Regions from separate parts of the Homo sapiens genome. Here region 1 is linked to region 2. Evidence: fine-mapped expression QTL. A gene starts in region 2. The other region holds a variant in brackets. All regions are shown on one strand. Distances are between the middles of the regions. Region 1 has its middle 76 kb from the start of FERMT2. Region 2 holds the start of DDHD1 (DDHD domain containing 1).

The links. PIP is the estimated chance that this variant, and not a neighbour inherited with it, causes the effect.
Region 1: its variant is fine-mapped to the expression of DDHD1 in prefrontal cortex (ROSMAP, PIP 0.95).

What each region holds. Positions count from the first base shown.
Region 1 is chr14:53,021,679-53,032,774 of GRCh38, reverse strand. No RefSeq gene overlaps it. Among named protein-coding and RNA genes, the nearest start is that of FERMT2, 76 kb to the right of the region's middle. The variant G/ATG (reference allele first, on the strand shown) is at 6,620.
Region 2 is chr14:53,148,620-53,159,523 of GRCh38, reverse strand. DDHD1 (DDHD domain containing 1) reads left to right here and starts at 6,201. Exons shown (of 13, transcript NM_001160148.2): 1 at 6,201-7,263. The coding sequence starts at 6,426. It overlaps DDHD1-DT (DDHD1 divergent transcript), which reads right to left and starts at 6,170. Exons shown (of 3, transcript NR_110062.1): 1 at 5,793-6,170; 2 at 2,951-3,281; 3 at 1,996-2,362. RefSeq lists a silencer at 6,026-6,355 and enhancers at 7,176-7,375, 7,396-7,445.

The DNA of each region.
Region 1 (11,096 bases), 130 kb after region 2:
GATAGATTTTAATCCACTCGATCTTTTTTTAAAGACTTGAAGATCCTCCAGCTGAAATGTCAGTGTGCCCAAGTATGCAACTCACTATTCACAAAAGAACTTTCTTTCAAGATCTCTGCCTTCCATAAGCAATTCACAAACTCCTCTTCCTCTTTGCACCCTGTGTCAAGGCTTCCTGAGTACCATTTCAACAGAGAACTTATTTATAACTGCAATATATCTAAAAATCATAGTCCAAAATCTTTCAGGCAGACAAATGCCATTGATCTCAATGTCATATTCAGGAAGTCACTGATCCAAGTGCCATATTCCACAAATTCCCAGGCATAATCGAACTTGCTAGAAAACCAAAAAGGGAAAACCTGGGAAGTGGGCCAAGATCCTTGGTGTCATTGTACAACATTCAAGCCAACTCTGGTTTCAACATTCTTTTGAGATTGTTAATCCCTGATTGGAATGCATTCCACAGTGCTTGGCCACAGATTGTCACACAAGAAGTACACTGCAGAATTGTACTTGCATATTGCTGGCTTTTTGCAATAGGAAAATAGAACCCTTAGTAGGAAAGTCTGTTTTGTCTTTTTAATTTGTATGAAATCTCTGTGGAAGTATTACAATGTAGTAGACATAAAACTGGATTAGGATGGTCTATCATATATAATCTTGAGCTAATGCCTAATCTTCTAACTACCCTACCTGTTTCCCAAGGTGGTTATAAAGAATTAATAAGATAACATTTTATGTAAGGCATCACTGTTGTGATAAGCATAAGGAAGATGTAACTCAAAATATATGGACAAATGGTAAGCTTCAACAGTAAGCTTTACCAAGTGAGTAATAGTATCTGAAATAATCTGTTCATATGATACAATCTCAAAAATGCAACAGGATCTTTTTTGGAACTGGGCAAGCTGTGTCTTAAAATTGTATAGAAAAAATAAGAATATTCAGGAAATTTCCAAGGGGGAAAGAAGAGTAATGAGGACAATTAGCCCACTAGATAGTAAAACATAGTATAATGCTATTGTGACCAAAACACTATAGTAATAGTGTATGAAGAGACAAGAGAGACCAATAGAATAGATGAGGAAGCCCAGAAATATGTCAGATACATAGCCAATTTTAGTATATGATAAAGGCATTTCAAATCATTTATAAGAAGAGCCTAAGAAAAAAATGAGTGAGGTACCACTTTTCACCTATAAGAGTGACAAAGTTCTAAGGGCTTTATAACATGCTCTGTTGGTGAGGGTACAAGGAAAGTTACTCCCAAACATTTGCTGGTGGAAATGTGAATAGGTACAACATTTTTGGAGGGCAGTTTGGCAATATCTATCAAAGCTGAAAATGCCCATACCCTTTAACCCAACCATTCTGCTTCTACAAATCTGTCCTTCAAATATTACCACTCCTGAAAAATGACTTACATATAAAGTAATTAGTTACAGAATTGTTACTGACAGCAAAATATTAAAAGCAATATAAATTCCATTGATTGGGATTAGCTAAAGAAATTATGGTACCTCTATAAGGTGGAATTGTGTATAGATTAAAGAAATTAAAGATAAGGCAGTTCTATATGTACAGGTATGGCAGAGTCCCCAAGCTATGTGGTTAAGTGAAAACCCAAATGCAAAACAGGATGTATAGAATGTAGAGTGTAGAGTGTTTAGAATTTATGCCATTTATAGGCAGTCAGGAAGACATAGGATATAATACCTCTGAAAGATCAAACCAGAAATTACTCTTAGTGGTTACCTCTGCAAAAGAGAATTAGATAACTGAGGGACAGGAGTAGAAGGTATGCTTGCTTTTAGCTATATGCAGTTTGTTATGCCTTTTGAATTTTTAATTGTATGCATGAGTTACCTATTCAAAAGTGTGTTTTATTTTTTAAGAAACAAAAAACATTAGTAGCAGAAATAACAGGCATAATCTGATAACTTTACATACTAGTCTACATACCAAGGAACTTAAATGTTCCTTATTCTTTTGAGAGTATTGAGCAATATTAATATGATTACTATCCCAGAGGCAGATAGGAGATTGTAGGATGTGAGATTAGGAAAGAAATGCCTTACTCAGAATTAGAGGAATAAAGGATCAATCTTTAAAAGTAGGATGATTTAACTATCTGTCCCCATGCTCTTCTTCAGAAAGGCTGAAAAGAAAGGCCTTTGACTGCAATTCTCCTTATAGCTCAAGGTTCATATTCCTTAGATGAGCCATTGTTTTGGAAAACACACTAATGAGTTTTGGGATAGGACAGGGCCGGTCTGGAAAAGAAGAATCAAAATAGTTCTGTACTGGCTATTATTAAAAAGTCAAAAAATAACATGCTGGTGAGGTTGTGGAGAAAAAGGAATGCTTATACACTGTTGGTGGGGGTGTAAATTAGTTCACCCATTTTGGAAGACAGCGTGGTGATTCCTCAAAGACCTAAAGACAGAACTACCATTTGGCCGAGCAGTTCCATTACTGGATGTATACCCAAAGGAATATAAATCATTCCATCATGAAGACACATATATGTGTCTGTTCATTGCAGCACTGTTCACAATAGCAAAGATGTGGAATCAACCTAAATGCCCATCAATGATAGACTGGATAAAGAAAATGTAGTACATATACACCATGGAATACTATGCAGCCATAAAAAGAATGAGATCACGTCCTTTGCAGGGACATGAATGGAGCTAGAGACCATTATCCTTAGCAAACTAGTGCAGGAACAGAAAAACCAAATACAACATGTTCTCATAAGTGGGAGCTAAATGATGAGAACATATGGACACACACAGAGGAACAACACACTGAGGCCTAGCAGAGGGTGGAGGGTGAGGGTTGGAGGAGGGAGAGGATCAGGAGAAATAACTAATGGGAACTGGGTTTAATACCTGGGTGATGAAATAATCTGTATCAACAAACCCACATGACACAGGTTTACCTATGTAACAAACCTGCACATGTACCTCAAACTTAAAAATAGTTCTGCGTATAAAGAAGGAAGTAAAGTGAAGGGCAGAGAATCATAGAAGCAGGTAAGTTTAAGATAGGAGCATGTGAAAAGAAAAAGTAAAAAGCTGTGAAAAGGGAGAGGGAAACCAAGCAGCCTTTAGTAAAGTTAGTTTCATACACAAATGCCTTGTGTGAGTATTATTGTTTTGAGGGGGTTAAGGGCGGAAAGGCTGAGAGTCCTCAGTTGGGACAAAGCAATACAGGAGAGTAACAGCACGTGGGGAGGCACAGTGGCACACACCTGTAGTCCCACCTACTTGGGAGGCTGAGGCAAGAAGATTGCTTGAGCCCAGGATCTTAAGTCCAGCCTGGGGAACATAGTGAGACTCTATCTCTAAAATAAATATAAATAAAATTAATTCTCCAAATACTGAGGTAACTGGAAAATGCATAAATCACCCAGATTTTCCTGAGGAGGGACACGAGTTCAAGCTAATTTTCTTTGAATTTCAAAGGAAAAGGTGCTTCAGCTGACATCTTATTGTTTGTATTTTTAGTAGAGACAGGGTTTCACCATGTTGGCCAAGCTAGTCTCAAACTCCTGACCTCAGGCGATCCACCAGCCTCGGCCTCCCAAAGTGGTGAGATTATAGGCATGAGCCACAGCGCCTGGCATCCCTTAATTCTTAATAAATTATTATACAATAGTTCAGGCTATAATGTGAAGATCAAGGAAAAACACATTTCCAGTTTCTCTCCCTGTCCAAAGTTGCTTTATCTATTAATTTAATTGTTTAGATATCTAGCAAGTGTAGAGACCAAGGGAAAGTTTCCCCTTTACCCTCTAAAGGTTCACTGAAAATGAATGACAATAAGCAGATTATTCGGAGAAAAAGGTATACATGTTTATTTAATATGCATAAGCACAGGGGAATTGCAGGAGAATGATTAATAACCCAATGAGGTCCATATGCTTATATACTCTCCTTCATGGGGGAAAAGGAGATGGGGAAAATATGGCCATTCTGAGGGGTAGTGTCTTAGTCCATTTGTGTTGCTATAAAGGAATACCCAAGGCTGAGTGATTTACAAAGAAAAGAGGTTTATTTGGCTTACAGTTCTGCAGGGTGTACAAGAAGCATGTCACTGGTACCTGCTCAGCTTCTGGTGAGGGCCTCAGGCTGCTTCCATTCACGGTGAAAGGCAAAGGAAAACCAGTGTGCAGAGATCATATGATGAGAGAGAAAGCAAGGGAGATGGGAGGGAGATGCCAGGCTCTTTTGAACGACTAGCTCTTGGGGAAACTCTCTTGAGGGCTAATAGAGCGAGAACTCACTCATTACCTCAAGGACAGCACCAAGACATTCATGAGGGATCCATCCCATGACCCAGACACCTCCCATTAAACCCTACCTCCAACATTGGGGATAAAATTTCAACATGAAGTTCAGGCACGGTGGCTCATGCCTGTAATCCCAGCACTTTGGGAGGCCAAGGCGGGCAGATCACCTGAGGTCAGGAGTTCGAGACCAGCCTGGCCAACATGGTGAAACCCTGTCCATACTAAAAATACAAAAATTAGCTGGGCATGGTGGTGTGCGCCTGTAGTCCCAGCTACTCAGGAGGCTGAGGCAAGAGAATTGCTCAAACCTGGGAGGTGGAGGTTGCAGTGAGCCAAGATCGTGCCACTGCAGTCCAGCCTGAGCAGCAAGTGAGACTCTGTCAAAAAAAAAAAATTCAACATGAAATTTGGAGGGTCAAATATCCAAACTATAGCAGGTAATAAATTATTTTTAGGGGAAATGAATGGGTCCAATGCTCAGACAATGACTATCAAATAATTATTTGGGGGAATTTAATGGAGCCAGAGAACAGAAAATAGTTTGGAAAAAAGTTCAGCTGAGCTCTAGATGTGGTGTTTAATTTTCAGCCTCTTCCTTGGTGATACGAGTTTTAATCTCTGGTTTATGAAATTTCAGGGAGGGGATCAAAGACAGTTGTGTTTCTCTTTCATGGGTCCAGTTTCTAGGTAGATAAGGGAACTTCCAAGAACAGCTACATCCTGTGCTTTGGGAGAGAGAGAGTATTGAAAGAGAAGCGGGCAGGGAGGTCAGAGAGACCTTGAGGCTTCTTCTTTAGTTCAGCATGTCAAAGTATCATATTTTAGGGATCTTTTTCTGAACCCCAACACAAGCATTCCTTGTTTGTATGTGGTTTTCATCTTACGGGTCAGTTAGTTCCATTCCAGTTTGGTTCAATTCAATCCAACAGTAATTTCCTATGTGCTTGCAATTGTCCGAGGTGATACAGAAAACTCAAGAAGCCAAGCCTCTCTCCTTCCACCTCCCTACTCCCACCTTAGGAGTTCACAGCCTGTTCTATTGGTGCAGCTCAATCAGCCTACAGAAATACGTGTCACAAAACAGGAAAAGGAGTAGGGAAGATGGCTTAAACCAGATCACTTGCTGTAACTGCAAAAACAAGGAACAAAAGTTAAGCTGGTTAATATGCATGCTCAGTAGTCAGAAGAATCCTTACAGCAATATTACTTGTACCAACTCTCATTAGCCTGAATGAAGCTCTTGTTTGACTCTAAATCCTGCCAGTACTGAGTACCCAGATTGTATTTCCCAGGGAGAAGCCTTGGTCCTTTGTGCTGTGCCAAGGAGAGTTAAAGGTAAGAAGGCCTCCATTTCCCCACAACTTCTCTCAATTCTTGATGCCAATGGATCCTGGGAGTTGTAGAACCAGTTTATGTATTAGATTGGTGCAGAAGTTATTGCGGTTTTTGCCATTACCTTCAATGGCAAAAACTGCGATTACTTTTGCACCAACCTCATACAGGCTAACAAAAGGATTTAATTACCTTCAATATTTTTATTTCTCACAAATGCAAAATATCCTCAAGTATTTAAATTCTCAACATTCCACATAGAAGCTAGAATAATTTGCAAGTAATACATGCACATATAAAGTGAGTTTAGGCTGGGCACAGTGGCTCAAACCTGTAATCCCAGCACTTTGAGAGGCCAAGGCAGGAGGATCACTTGAGTCCAAGAGTTCAAGATCAACCTGGGCAACACAGTGAGACCTAGTCTCTACAAAGAAAAAAGGCAAGAGTGGTGGTACACACAAGTAGTTCGAGCTACTCAGGAGGCTGAGGTAGGAGGATCACTTGAGCCTAGGAGATCAAGGCTATAGTGGGCTGTGATCGCACCACTGCACTCCATCCTGAGTGACATAGCAAGACTCTGTCTCTAAATAAATACATAAATAAATAAATAAATAAATAAATAAAAGGGTTTGGATGCTGGACCACCTGAATTATGAATATCTATTATATGCCAGGCACAATGGCTCATGCCATAATCCCAGCACTTTGGGAGGCCAAGGCAGGTGGATCACTTGAGCCCAGGAGTTTGAGACAAGCCTGAGCAACATGGCAAATCCCCATCTCTAAAAAAAAAAATTAAAAACTTAGCCAGGTATGGTGGCACACACCTGTAATCCCAGCTACTCGGGAGGCTGAGGTGGGAGGATCACCTGAGCCCGGAAAGTTGAGGCTGCACTGAGCAGAGGTCTTGCCACTGCACTCCAGCCTGGGCAACAGAGCAAGATCCTGTCTCAAAAAAAAAAAAAATATATATATATATATATATAT[G/ATG]TATATATATAATATTTAAATTTTCACTTTGTTAATTTGGGCTCATCAGTTGAGAATCCAGTGATTTTGCCATCCAGTGAGCTTACATTTCCAGGTTTCTGCTGCTACACACTTTTTTAGATAGTCTTTTGTGCTTCTCCAGACTTAAAGAATTGCACAGGATAGGGTCAGAAGCAATCATTGTAACCAGGCTTTCCTCTGATTTAAAGAACATACATTAATCTTAAGGAAATGGCTAACCAACCAGCTATGGTCCTCTTAATTGCTGAATAACCCAGTACACAGACCTCCATCCTGCCACTTAAATAAGAGATATTAAGAAAAGTTTTGTCAGATCCTGTGACAGTTAATTTGATGTGTCACCTTGACTTGATCATGGAATGCCCAAATATCTGGTTAAATATGACTTCTGGGGTGTGCCTATGAGGGTATTTCCAGAAGAGATTTGCATTTGAATTGACAGACTGAGTAAAGGAAATTATTCTCCGCAATGTGAATGTGCACCATCCAATCCATTGAGGGCCTGAGTAGAGAAAACAAGGATTCACTCCCTCTGCCTGACTGCTTGAGCTGAGGCATTTATCTTCTCCTGCCCTCAGTACGCCTGGTTCCCAGGTCTTTAGATCCACAGTGGAATACACACCATTGGCTCTGTGGCTCTCAGGTCTTCAAACTATGCCACCAACCAGCTTTCATGGGTCACCAGCTTGCTTGGCAGCCTAATGTGGAAAGCAGATGAGCTACCCCAGGTTACACAAGGGTGGCTTGTGGTTCAGCTGTAACATCTGGTAATTTGACAAGTGTTTGTACCGTAAGAGTCAGTGTCAGGACCATTTATGACCTTCATAAGAGGCTTGAGGATGCTGCCTGTGAAATCAAACCACAGGGTATGTCTTGCCTTGGTATGTCACACAGGAAAGGCCCAGTACCACTCCTGTTTTCAAGACAAAGGGGAAAATTCCCTTCTAATGGCTTTACCTGAGCAAAGGACAGTCCTTGAGCTTCCCTGAAAGTTTTTCCATATCCAAGTAACTCACCAAGAGGAGAAGTAGAGTGACATTGTTTTCTTGGTGATAAATGCCGTATCTTGTCATAGATCTATTTTCCAGTCTTGGTCTACCAGCTTTTTGCAAGTACCTGTCATTCCTTGGCAGGAATTAAAATTAGTTCAGGTTTTTTTTTTTTTTTTTTTGAGACGGAGTCTTGCTCTGTCATCCAGGCTGAAGTACAGTGCCTCAATCTTGGCTCGCTGCAACCTCTGCCTCCTGGGTTCAAGCGATTCTCCTGCCTCAGCCTCCCAAGCAGCTGGGATCACAGGCATGCATCACCACGGCAGCTAATTTTTGTATTTTTAGTAGAGACAGGGTTTCACCATGTTGGCCAGGCTGGTCTCGAACTCCTGGCCTCAAGTCATCCGCCCACCTTGGCTTCCCAAAGTGCTGGGATTACAGGCATGAGCCATCGTGCCTGGCCTAGTTCAGGTTCTTTTGTGTGATCTAGATGTTGGACATAGACAGCAATCTGATTAACTAATATGCCAGGGTTTGGGAAACTGGTGTAGGAGGATGTCAGGTTTCTGCTTGGCCTATTGAGAAAACTGGAAGAGTTTATAAAAGCATAATAGAGTTTGGAAGAGAGCCCATAGCGGAGAGTCAGAGTGAAAACAGGATAGATAGAGACGCGCAATCTCCAGTCAGCCTTTAAATAAATGGCCAAAGAAAAGGAGTCTTCATTAAAAGGAAGAGGTATTTTTGTTTTTGTTTTGGAGTAAGGAGACATAATGGGGGAGAAAATCGGTGGAAGTGAAGTTTCTTAATGACCTTGGGAAAAAATTGTCTACTTCATGATGCTGTCTGCTTCCTGAGCCTGGGGATTAACCCTGGAAATCCTTACTTTAAGGTCACTTGCAGGGATGGTCTTCCAAATTGTCCTGAGAGTGCTGATCTGGGGTCTCTCAATTGTCCTAAGAGTGCTGACCTAGCTTAGCATGGCTTGCAGGAATCCATGAGGATTTTTATTTTATTTAGATAGCGGCATAAGTTGTTAGCAGTACTTCATAAGGTCCTTCCTAGCTAGGTAATGTCTTCTAAAAACCTTGATGTACATAGATCTCCTCGTCAAAAGAGATGGCAAGCATTGTCAGTTGGCAGAGGCTGGCTGTGTCATTTTTACCTGTTGATATGCTCCAAGTATACTTGTCAGTTCCTGTATATAACTAGTCATAGCATCGAATTGTTCACTTAAGTCTCCATAATGGTTCACTCAATTCAAGAATAGAAGGCTTAGAGATACCAGTAGGCATAGAACAACCAAGTATTGTTTCCAAAGGGGTAAATTCATGCCTTCTATTTCAAGTATTACAGGTTTTATGTATTTAGGGGAACGCTTCTGGCCATTTCAGTGCAGTCTCTTGATAGAATTTTCCTAAAATTTTTTGTTTCTACCTAGCCAATATTTTAATAATCCACAATATTAGCTGATTCATAAAAAGTGCTTTTACAACCTGTTACCATCTAAGATAATGCATCATACAATTTTCAAGAATGTGTTGATTTTGAGCCTCTGTTCTGTAGAATTCCCTGTGCTGCAGCCGGTACATGCTCCTTTTTGATGACTCCACATTTATTCTCACAGGCATTTGTCCTGGACTCTTCTGCTAATCAATGAACAAACAGTAAGTCATTCAGATGGGCCAGTAACTCACCACTTGTCTCCATATGAAGGTGAGGCTTCTGTTACTTGAAGACTTGATTAAGTAAGCGTGGGAGACTGTGCATGGTGGCTCACATGGGCATGTAATCCCAACAGTTTGGGAGGCCGAGGCAGCAAGAGTTCATGACCAGCCTGGGCAACATAACAAGACCCCCATCTGTATAAAAAACAAAATAATTAGCTGGGTGTGGTGGTACGTGCCTGTAGTCCTAATTATTGGGAGGCTGAGGTAGGAGGATCATTTGAGCCCAGGAGGTCAAAGTCACACCACTGCACTCCAGCCCGGGTGACAGAGCAAGACCCTATCTCTAAAAAATTTTTAAATAAAATCTTTTTTTAAAGATGTGGGGGAACTTATACTTTATCTGCTTTTTCTGGTGGACTGTGGTTCCCCCACCCCCACCAAGCACCAGCTGCCTCAGCTCCTAAAGCCCTCCCCACACCACACACAAGCTCATGCTCACTAGGGCAGTGAAAACAACCCAGTCCCTCCAATGCTTCTTTCCCCAAAGTCCTTTTTATGTCTAGCTTTTTCTGTTCCACTTGCCCTGAGGATAAGGGATGATCAGGGTATGAAATTTTAATGAGTATCCCAAAGTTTTTGCAAGCAAGTGGTTTATTTCTGCTATAAAATGAATTCCTTGGTCTGACTCAATTCATAAAGGAATGCCAAAACAAAGAATAATCTTATTCATTTATTCACCACTGTCGTGGCATCAGCACGTCTAGTCAGATGGCGTTCAGTCTATCCACTAAACATAGAAACAATAAGCAAACAGTGAGAATAGCCTAAAGCTGGAGGTAAATCTATGAAATCCACTTGGAGTGCCACAAGAGGCAATGTAGGCCTCAAGGACTTCCTGAGGAATATTGGTTTCCTACAGAAATTTGGTGAGATTTACAAGCAGTATGCTGGGAAATAATTCGGTCAGAAATTTTGTGGGTGCCAGGGCAGAACCAATTATAATTTTTTTTTTTTTTTTGGAGACGGAGTTTCGCTGTTGTTGCCCAGGCTGGAGTGCAATGGCACAATCTTGGCTCACTGCAACCTCCGCCTCCCGGTTCAAGCAATTCTCCTGCCTCAGCGTCCCAAGTAGCTGAGATTACAGGTGCCCGCCACCATTCTCAGCTAATTTTTTGCATTTTTAATAGAGATGGGGTTTTACCATGTTGGCCAGGCTGGTCTCGAACTCCTTACCTCAGGTGATCCACCCACCTCGGCCTCCCAAAGTGCGGGGATTACAGGCATGAGCCACCACACCTGGTGCCCATTTATCTTTTGGGTCCTTAACTATCCTCCATCTGCACATACATCCCATTTGATGGGAGACAAGTGCAAGCCAAAAGGCTGAAAGAATGGGGGCCATAGGAAATCCTTTTGGCCCAATGTATAATCCATCTGATCATTGTTTTGAATGCTTTTGTATCCATTTGTCTTTTCAGATCATGGAGCATCTGCCTGATAATCAATAGTATCAGCTAGAGATAAAGGCAGGTTTAGAAACTAGATATAAAAAAAAAAAGGTGGCACATTTTTGGCTGTGTATTTAGCAGCCTTGTCAGCCCTATTGTTCCCAAGAGATACAATACCAGACTCCTTAGTATGGGCTGAACAATAAGCAACAGTAATTTTAGTAGGGAGGAAAATAGCCTGTAATAGATCAACAATTATATGCCCATTGGCAATAGAAGCACCAGCAGAAGTTAAAAATTCAAGGCATTTCCAGATTATGCCAACAGTATGGCAGACTCCAAAGGCATATCT
Region 2 (10,904 bases):
TTGCCATGTTGGCTGGAACTCCTGAGCTCAGGTGATCCACCTGTCTCGGCCTCCCAAAGTGTTGGGATTACAGGCGTGAGCCACCACACCTGGCCATTTCTGTTGTTTTAAACCATGCAGTGCAGCCCTAGGAAATGAATACACTGTTCCTCTATATCTTCTAAAGGTTTATAATTAATACCTGTCTCTCTCTCTCTCCTTCTTTTTTTTTTTTTTTTTTTTTTTGAGATGAGATATCAGTCTCACCCAGGCTGTGGCATGATCTCGGCTCACTGCAACCTTTGCCTCCCGGGTTCAAGCAATCCTCCCACCTCAGCCTCCTGAGCACCTGGGACTATAGGCACACCACCACGCCTGGGAAATTTTTGTTTTTGTTTTTTGTTTTGTTTTCGGTAGAGACAAGGTTTTGTCATGTTGCCCAGGCTGGTCACGAACTTCTAGGCTCCAGTGATCCTCCTGCCTCAGCCTCCCAAAGTGCTGGGATTACAGGCATGATCCACCTGGCCCAGAGGTTTATAATTTCTAACCTGAGAAGTACAGTCATATGAGTGATCAAAGTTTATAATTGTTAACCTCAGAAGCAGAGTAATATGAATAATCAAATGAAGGACTATTTGTGAGTTCTTACAGATGATTAAGAATTAGTATGAATCTGATGTTCTAAACTTTAGAAGTGAAGGAGTCACAAATGCAGGGCCATTGTTACTAATTTCTCATATTTAAAATATATGTTGCTGAATCTTGAAGATAAAATTTCTGAAGAATTTTGCTTTTCTACCATGCCATTTACATTTATTAATGGTATTATCCTAATGGCTATCTAGTATGGTTCAAGTAACCCAATGGGAGACCCACAAAAAGAATTTGGGAGCTTGTGAGTCTAGAATCATATATATGTATATATAATGATTATTATATGTATGATTATTATATATATATATATATTTTTTTTTTTTTTGAGATGGAGTTTCGCTCTTGTTGCCCAGGCTGGAGTGCAGTAGCATGATCTCGGCTCACTGCAACCTCTGCCTCCTGGGTTCATGTGATTCTCCTGCCTCAGTCTCCCGAGCAGCTGGGATTACAAGCACGCACCACCGCGACCAGTTAATTTTGTATTTTTAGTAGAGATGGGGTTTCACCATGTTGGGCAGGCTGGTCTCGAACTCCTGACCTTGTGATCCACCCGCCTTGGCCTCCCAAAGTGCTGGGATTACAGGCGTGAGCCACCGTACCCGGCCTAGAATCATATTTTATTCAAGCTGAAACTTTAAATGAGTTGCTGACTTATGATGTAAGGATAAACATACTTTTTTAAGCAGCAGTTGCAAAAACAGTAAATCAATTCTGCTGTTCAGTCTTTTAAATGCTCAGCAAATTACTGACAGTTACATTAGTGGAAATAAATCCTTATTGGAACAAAGCTTCTCTTTTCTTTCCTTTTTAACTTATATATGACAATACACATACGCAAGGTGCTGCCTCTAAGTCTTGCTCAGCACCATATTATGATTATCAATTACTTTTTATTGAAGGCTCATATGAGTCTGTGAACAAATATGTACTTTCAACTTACCTGTGGAGGTAGGAAAAAATCCTAGAGCGCAGAAGTCATTAAATACATCTACAATGGGTGCATAATGTGGGCCTCACAGCAGCCAATAGCTATGGCCCAACTCACTTTTCTATAATGAAAGGGCAGGAAGATGGCCAAATCTGTCTGATATAAACAAGCTGATGAGGATTTTGTGGCTGCCTCCACAGAGTATGCATCAATGTTGTATTGATTTATACTTTCTTTCATTTGAATATATACCTTCACCACCACTGACCTTTATTTCCAAAAGGAATAGAAAACATTTTTATAGGGTTTTGGTAAGTATGGTTTTGTGGATAGGCCTCTTATAAATCTTTAAATAAATGCATTTCATAATTCTAAATTTTAAGTGTAATTTCAGTTAAAAATAAAAACACAATAGCACTAGACAATAAATATTTGTTGAATGAATAAATGGAAGGATTAATGACTTTATTCATCATGAATCCCTACGTTATTTCTGCCCACCTTGCTTCCTTTGGATTGTAATTTGATTTTGTTTATTGATCTGTCTGTAGGGAGAGAATGACCCCATGGTAGTGATGCAGCTATAGTGGCATTACAATTATATTCCTCATAGGAATTTAAAAGTTAGCATTTTGGTTTTATTTATAGACACCACTAGACTGTGAATGCTTCACTGTAGAGCCTAGCACAGTGCCTGAAATGTCCAGCGAATGTTCCCTGCTTCAGTCTAGGTTGTTGTTTCATTTGGTCAGGGCATCAGATAAAACACTCTCATCTTTAAAAACCAGATAAGTAGTAATCCTAAAAATAAAAAGTGAAATAAAATTTAAGTTGTGGTGGATGGCTTATCGAACACGAGATACAGCAGATGGGGGCATGGTTATGTCTGCCCTCTTTCTTTCATTCTAAATAGGGGTCTTCCATCATACACTTTGGATGAAGCTATTTCAAGTGCAGGTGTGGGATGTTGGCTCAGGATAAATTACTTGGCATCAAGCATTCCCTAATGTTACAAACGTGAAGACAGGTTAAAATGAACAACATGGTGGCTTGTGCCTGTAATACTAGCTACTGGGGAGGCTGCAGCAGGAGGATTACTTGAGGCCAGGAGTTCAAGGCTGCAGTGAGCTAGGATTGGCCTACTATACTTCACCCGGGCAACAGCAAGACCCTATCTCTAAAATAATAAAATGAATAACAGGGACAAACTTTAAGAAAAGAAGAAAAGGGAAAGACAGCACACAATTGCACGAAAACATCTTTGAGACGCGGGAGGAGATGGCCGTTGTTACCAGATAGCTCTTGCCATATGCCTAATGGGGACAGGAAGGTGGTAGGATACACAGACGAGCTGTTTTAGTCTTTTGTAGTACAAACCAACTGGCTTACCTTTTTTTTTTTCTGCACACCAATAACTCCGTCAGGCTTGATTCCACATGCACCTGTTTCTTGCGGCAGCATGGCCCAGTAATGCCAGAAGTCTGAATCAATCACACTTATTTGCCTTATGTGAAAGAGGCCTTGTCTTGCGTAATTATTAAAATACAATGGAATGCTTTACATAGAGCCATGGAAGTTCAGATAATGCTGTGTCCATTGTACACACTAATGATGTAGAGTGGTGAGGAGCCACCTGACACCTATTCTGGCAGGTGGGGACTAGAATAGATGCCCCAACCCATCTCCCTCTGGTCAGGATCATATTACCTGAGAAGATGATCTAGAAAACAAAAGGAGAGCAGGAACAGGAGGCATTAGATAAAACATGACTTTTTAAAGCAGAAAAGTTGAGAAAAACAACATCATGACCTTTGCCTTGCTATGATGGCTAGGGAGTAAAAAGGAAATAAACACATGCAGTCACATGAAGTTAGATATTGTGCTCTCAAATATCTTCTGAGCACTGTCAGCCTGGGACCCAGTATATGGGTCTGCCATAGCCCAAGCTCACTTCCAAGGGGCAGAAGCAATCTCAGCCCACAAATGTTGATTGACATCTCCCCTCAACAAGGTCTAGACCAAGCTTGCCCAACCTGCAGCCCATGGGCCATATGCAGCCCAGGATGGCTTTGAATGTGGCCCAACACAAATTCATAAACTTTCTTAAAACAGTACGAGATTTTTTCGTGATTTTTTAAGCTCATCAGCTATCATCAGTGTTAGTGTATTTTATGTGTGACCCAAGACAATTCTTCTTCTTCCGATGTGGCCCAGGAAAGCCAAAAGATTACACACACCTGGCTCTAGACCAAGATAACCAGGTCAGCAGAGAATCTAGGATTCCCTTCTTCTGCCACCTGGGTTGTGTTGAGAATCAACATTTCCTTCAAAAATGATCACTCTACCTAAAAGGAGTGTGGCATTTCCCCAGTGAACCACAAGAGGATAATCTTCTCAAAATAACCAAATAAGCACACTTAAAAGTAATAGAAACATTCATTCAATGCAAAGCAGAAAGTACTTTTTTTTTTTTTCCAAGACGGAGTCTCGCTCTGTAGCCCAGGCTGGAGTGCAGTGGCGTGATCTCGGCTCACTACAAGCTCCGCCTCCCGGGTTCACGCCATTCTCCTGCCTCAGCCTCCCGAGTGGCTGGGACTACAGGTGCCCGCCACCACGTCCAGCTAATTTTTTGTATTTTTTTTTAGTAGAGACAGGATTTCACCATGTTAGCCAGGATGGTCTCGATCTCCTGACCTCGTGATCTGCCCGCCTTGGCCTCCCAAAATGCGGGGATTACAGGCGTGAGCCACCGCGCCCGGCCTTAGTACTTCTTTTTTTTTTTTTTTTTTTTTTTTTTTTTTTTTTTAACAGAGGATAATGTTAACGGAAATTGTGTAGTCAAGAGTTAAAATCTGGCCAAAATAATCTGACCAGATAGTTATATAGTTAGGCTACATTCTATCAAGAAACATAAAGGAATAGAGATATTTTAAATGTTGTGATATTCCTTATTTATAATCCCCTTCATAGTACTTTTCATACTGTACTATAATATAATGTATCTGTTTACTTGTCTGTATCCCCCTCTAGGCTGTAAGTTCCTTGAAGAAAGAAAGAACTCTCTCCCATTCTCTCTTATAGTAGAAGTTAGCATAGAGGTGCCTGGCATATAGGTGGCCAGACACCTATTCAAACCCTGTAGAATGAATGCTTTTACAGCTAGTAAACAGACCAAAGCCCATACCCAATATCATATGCTGCATATTGTCAATAGAAATACTGGAGGAGCAACTGGGAAGCAGGCACTCAGAAATTTTTTTTGAGTGGTAAAGAGGGTCCTGATCTTAGATGCTTTCAGTCAGAGCTGCAGTATACAGTTGGATAGGTTGTTCACTGCACAAGGTTAACCAGCTAAGGGCACTAATTGGGGCAGAAAATCCAGCCTGTATTCTACTTGACAAGCCATCAACTCCAACACCGCTCTGTATCTGCCCACAGGAAGCAATGCCTTTTTTCAAATTCCTACAAAGGCCCTGTACAAACTTCAGATAGTCTTGATTTAAATAATGACAGAGTAATAATGTCTGACAGGTTACATCTCAGGAGCAAGAAAAATTGCCCTACCAATCTGATTCCACCAGAGAGTAAAAGAAATAGTGAAGACTGTCTATTCTTAAAATGAAAACACTGAGGTTGGAGATGGTTTTTCTCTGGATTCTCAACATAGGGTGATGTGCTTACAAAATAATTTTTTTTAAATAAAAAAGACCCACATAAGGGAGCCTCTGTATTCAACTTGATCCCAGAATATGAGTTACAGAATCAGAGATGCATAAAAATCTGGAAGAAACCTTAAAGTTCATAGAATTCCATTGCTAGAAGGAACTTTAGATATCATCTGGTCCAAGAATCTTAATTTTACAGATGAGGAAACCAAAAAGATCAGGAAGATTATGTGATTTGCCTGTGGATGGTTAGCAAAGCTAAATCTAGAACCTGGTTGTTTTCTACCTCTCAATCGAACACTCTTTACCACAGCTGGTTGGACTTGACATCATTATAATCAACTAAGACTGATTGCGCACCCACTGTGTGGGAGAGGCTGACATGGACTTGGTTTCCATCAAGGGCCTAGCAATGAGGTTGAGAAAACAGGAAATCCAAGCATCAAAAGATAAGTAATAATATGAGATGGCATATGAAGCAAGGTTTAGATTCCAGTTTCCCAGTGGGAGTGGTGACACCAAGGTGAGTGATGGGTGTGGGGTGGAGTGCCCTCGTATCCACCCACCTATGCGTCCTGGTTCTGTCTGGAGGCACCAGGGCCAGGTGACAAAACGTCCAGGCGAGGCCGCAGTAGGGCCTAAGGTCAAAAAGAGCAATGCTGAATCCTACATCCTGGGGCCCTCCTAACACGTAGCTTAAGGCTCTGGGCTCATGACCCACATTGTAAGGATGAGTGGGGTAAAGCCTATCCACATCTGGGCTGTGAATTCCAGAAGCGGGGGACCGAGGCAGCTGTGCATGAAGACCGCAAGGAAGGAGGAAGGGAGCCGAGGAGGCCCAAGAGCGGCGGGCGACCTGACACCACCCTGCCCTCCCAGCCAGAGGGGCAGGGGGGAACCCCGCGCGCGGCGCCGGTGCAGCCCGGGCTTCCGGGGCGGCGCACGCGGCCGGGGGGCGGGGCGGGGGCCGAAGCACCGCCTACGTCGGGCTGCGTGACAATGGGGCCGGCGGCAGAACGCAGCTGCGGCGGCTGCGGGTCTCGTGGGGGCGGAGCGGTCGCCGCTGCCGCCGCAGCTCGGGTCGGGATTTGAAAGATTAGAAACTTCGGGTGGAGAGGGCGGCGGCGTTGAATGTGTGGCGGAAGCGCTGGGGGTCACGGCTCCGCGCGCCGCCGGACAGCCGGCGGCGTCTCCACAGCATGAATTACCCGGGCCGCGGGTCCCCACGGAGCCCCGAGCATAACGGCCGAGGCGGCGGCGGCGGCGCCTGGGAGCTGGGCTCAGACGCGAGGCCAGCGTTCGGCGGCGGCGTCTGCTGCTTCGAGCACCTGCCCGGCGGGGACCCGGACGACGGCGACGTGCCCCTGGCCCTGCTGCGCGGGGAACCCGGGCTGCATTTGGCGCCGGGCACCGACGACCACAACCACCACCTCGCGCTGGACCCCTGCCTCAGTGACGAGAACTATGACTTCAGCTCCGCCGAGTCGGGCTCCTCGCTGCGCTACTACAGCGAGGGTGAGAGCGGCGGCGGCGGCAGCTCCTTGTCGCTGCACCCGCCGCAGCAGCCTCCGCTGGTCCCGACGAACTCGGGGGGCGGCGGCGCGACAGGAGGGTCCCCCGGGGAAAGGAAACGTACCCGGCTTGGCGGCCCGGCGGCCCGGCACCGCTATGAGGTAGTGACGGAGCTGGGCCCGGAGGAGGTACGCTGGTTCTACAAGGAGGACAAGAAGACCTGGAAGCCCTTCATCGGCTACGACTCGCTCCGCATCGAGCTCGCCTTCCGGACCCTGCTGCAGACCACGGGTGCCCGGCCCCAGGGCGGGGACCGGGACGGCGACCATGTGTGCTCCCCCACGGGCCCAGCCTCCAGTTCCGGAGAAGATGACGATGAGGACCGCGCCTGCGGCTTCTGCCAGAGTACGACGGGGCACGAGCCGGAGATGGTGGAGCTTGTGAACATCGAGCCTGTGTGCGTGCGGGGCGGCCTCTACGAGGTGGATGTGACCCAAGGAGAGTGCTACCCGGTGTACTGGAACCGTGAGTAGCGGGCCGGGGTTAGGGCAGGACGGGCTGCCCCTGCATGGGCCGATGCGCACCGGTGTGGGTTTGGGACTGGTCGCCGCGAAGAGGGAGGCGCGTGAGGCCTGGCGTTTGGCTGGGGCAGGATGGAGATTGAGCAGGGAGCGTCGGCAGCTGAAGGGTAAACGAGCAGATGGCAAAACCCAAGCTGCCTGGGGTCAGGAGGACTGGATACCTTCGGGGGTAGCGCCTCCTGGGTGAGCCGGGTGCTGCTGCCATCCCCTGGAAGTGATCCAGGACCGGATCCGCAGCCCGAGGTTTAATTTCGTGATCCTACCAGCTTTGTCCACCTGGGGATCTGGTTCTGTCTCATTTACCCTAAACAGCCTATGATTTAAATAGCGGCACGTCTTCTGGAGTAGGAAGGTTTGAGAGGATCTGCTCGAGAATCAACAGCTTAGTTATGGGTTCAGGAAAAGTAAAAGAATCCCTGGAGGGAAAGGAGATAGGTTGTTCCCACTGGGTGTGTTCGGAGAGGTGGAAAGCACTGCGTGAAGCAGCTCTGGCAAGTGGCTCCGCTCCCTCGGTGGAATACTGGATTCTGTCTCTTAGGTCCTCATTTACATATTTTTGTGTTTGCATCTTAACCTTGAAAAATTACCATTTCTATGCCTCGTCTTCCTCATTTGTAAAAGGGGAGAAATTGTACCTACCTCACGGGATTGTTGTGAAAGTAAATTAGAAAATATACTTCAAGGGCTTGGAACTATGGTTGGTACTTACGTGTGATATGAGTGTTAACAGTATTTATTAGACAACAACACAGACGGGTTTATAGTTAGAATAGGAGGAAGGTGACCGTAAATATCTGCCAGTGCATGCAGCAAATATTACGTATGTAATATATAGGAGATATTCAATAGTCACAGAAGTTACTGACCACCAGTATTATAATATGTAATATACACTTTTAATTTTCGTGGGCCCAATGCCCTAACTTAGATGTCTTCATTGATTGTGACAACCTTTAGATCCTCCATACAACACTCTGCCCTCTATTAGATGGATTGATGACAGCTTCCTTTCTGTATGTTAGGACCTTACCATCGGCAGAGCCCGTCACCTTTATCTTTGTACTCTGATAGGGCCTAGTGCAATATATATTCAATAACTAGGTATTGAATTGCATCAGTGATTCTGATAATGTTAAAACATTCATATGTTAAGCATGACTTACTAAGATAGCAATTCCAACATGTGTCAAATCACCAAATAAAATAATAGCAGGAAATTTAATTTCTTACTGCACATTAAGATGATACTAAAGGCATTCATTACCATTTTTATAAGGTCAGATTTAGTGAGATCTGTTACATCATTCACTTTTTTAGATTATATACTCACTAAAGGCAGGGTATGTTTATATTCATTCAGTTCTTTCATATTCAGAATATTTATATGTGCATAACGGTACTCTTGTGAAGGCATTAAGAAAGATGGGGAAAAGGAAAATCCTTACCCTTTCAGAGCTTCCCACTCGGTGTTTCCTTCAAATGACTTAAACATAATCATAGATTTTTTTTCCTGAAGATAGAAGTACCAAGACTTAGTGGAGTCAGAAAGTTGGATAAAAATACAGGGTATCCTTGGAGAGGGGACGGAAACCAAGAGATGAATCTTACCCTTAGATTAAACTGAAGTATATTCACCAAGAATACTGTGTGCTCTCTTGGTTTTTGATAAAATTGTTAATGCCTGCGTGGTACTTCACTGTTTACAAAGTGATTTTTGACATTGATTATTTTACAGTGATAGCAAATTAATACCAACATTATATACATGAAGAAATGGGCTCAGCGAAATTAATGAACTTGTCCAAGGCCACTTAGCTAGAAAGTGATGAAGCAGTTCATTCATTAGTCTAGTGGGGGAATACAGTGCAGTATGCAAAGAGCTTCTGACCCATCCAAGGGTGAGGGTATCAGGAAAGCGTCCCAGAAAATTTAAGACAGAGTCTTACAGGATGAATTTAATGAAGCAGAGAAATAGAGGGAAGGGCATTCCAGCTAGATGGGGCACATACACAAGGACACAGGTCTGAAACTGCGTGGCATTTTAAGGAAGTGAGGTCTACACCTGCAGGCACTGTGACACATGAGGTGGGTTTGGGCTTTGACCAACCACAGAGACCAAAGTATGTGAGGGATGGTGTTTGGTCAGGGACAGGATGGAGATTGTGAAGGGAGCACCTGCACATGAATGGCGCATTTGGGACAATAGCTGGAAAAGAGACAGGGTAGATATGCAGTGCTAAGGAGTTTGGCCTTTATCCTGCGAGTAATGAGGAACCAAACAGTAGAAGGTTCTTTATACTTACATGTGATTAATGACAATGCAAAAGTTGAGCTGGAGAGTTGGAAGCAGAATATCAGTAGAATGCTAGTGTCATAAATCAGGTGAAAACTGGTGGGAGCCTACAGAAGTTAACCTAAAGGTAATGTGGACTTCCCTTTCTCCAACCTTCTTTCCTAAAGCAAATAGCCATTAGGCCAATTATAGCTTATAACTAGCATAAGAGCAACACCTATTTTTATCTATATTTTAGCATTTTCTAAATAGTTCTCTACAAGATACAATCCTGTGGATGTCCAAGCCCTTGTATAAGCTATAATAAAAACACAGTAGTGCTTTTTGTCTATCCTGTAATTTGCCATTTCTCACAAAATCTCATATAACTTTAATTGGTTTCTTAAGTCTCTGTGTGTAAGTTTTCACACTTTCTAGGAGGGTCCAGTCCCCGTATGGGTTCTTCAGCCTTTCTTCAAATAGAAAAACTCATACTATACGTTGCAGCTTTTGACCTTGCCCCCATTTTACTTTTCCTTTTTAGCTGTTTTGGAAACTGTCTGGTTAGTGGTAATAAAAGTGTTTGAAAAAAAATGTCCAGTAAGTTCCTATGTAGAATGGTGGTATGAATCCATTGGCCATTTAGATTTTTGTGGCCTAATTTAGCCCACTGCATCTGGGTGTCAAGGCCAACAAGTTAGCTATACCTATTCTAAAAGAAAGATTTTATTTTATTCTTCCTTTTGAACTTGACTAGCAGATAAAATTTGAACTAATTTGGGGTACATGAATCAGAAAGGAGAACAGAATTTGTCTTCTATTAATGAGGAGCAATATTATTACATATGAAAAAATATCGTAGTAAACATTTTTGTTTTATTGTATGTTTAGATATTCTCCTGGCTGCATGTGGACATTTTAGATAAAAACTAATCATTGCTGAGTAATGGTTAAGTGAACTCTCTTGTTTGCAGTGTTCTTCCTGTTTGTACTCACTTCATAGACTTGTTTTGAGGATTATTATATGTAACATCCTTATTACAGTGGTTGGCACATTGTACTAGGTGTTAACTATATGTGGGTCTCACAAAAACTATACACCTTATTTTTAGTTCACATACAGGTTAGTAAGGTTAACCAGTGCACAGTTGTTGAGTGCCCACAATTTCTTGTTATTACTCAGTACCTCATCAGAGGTGAAAGAATGTCTGTAAGGAACATTGGCAAGAAAGTGGCCAAAGCATTCAGTAATAGCAGATGGGAAGGCATATGGAACATTCTAGAGATATTTCATGAGCTTAGAATAATTCAGC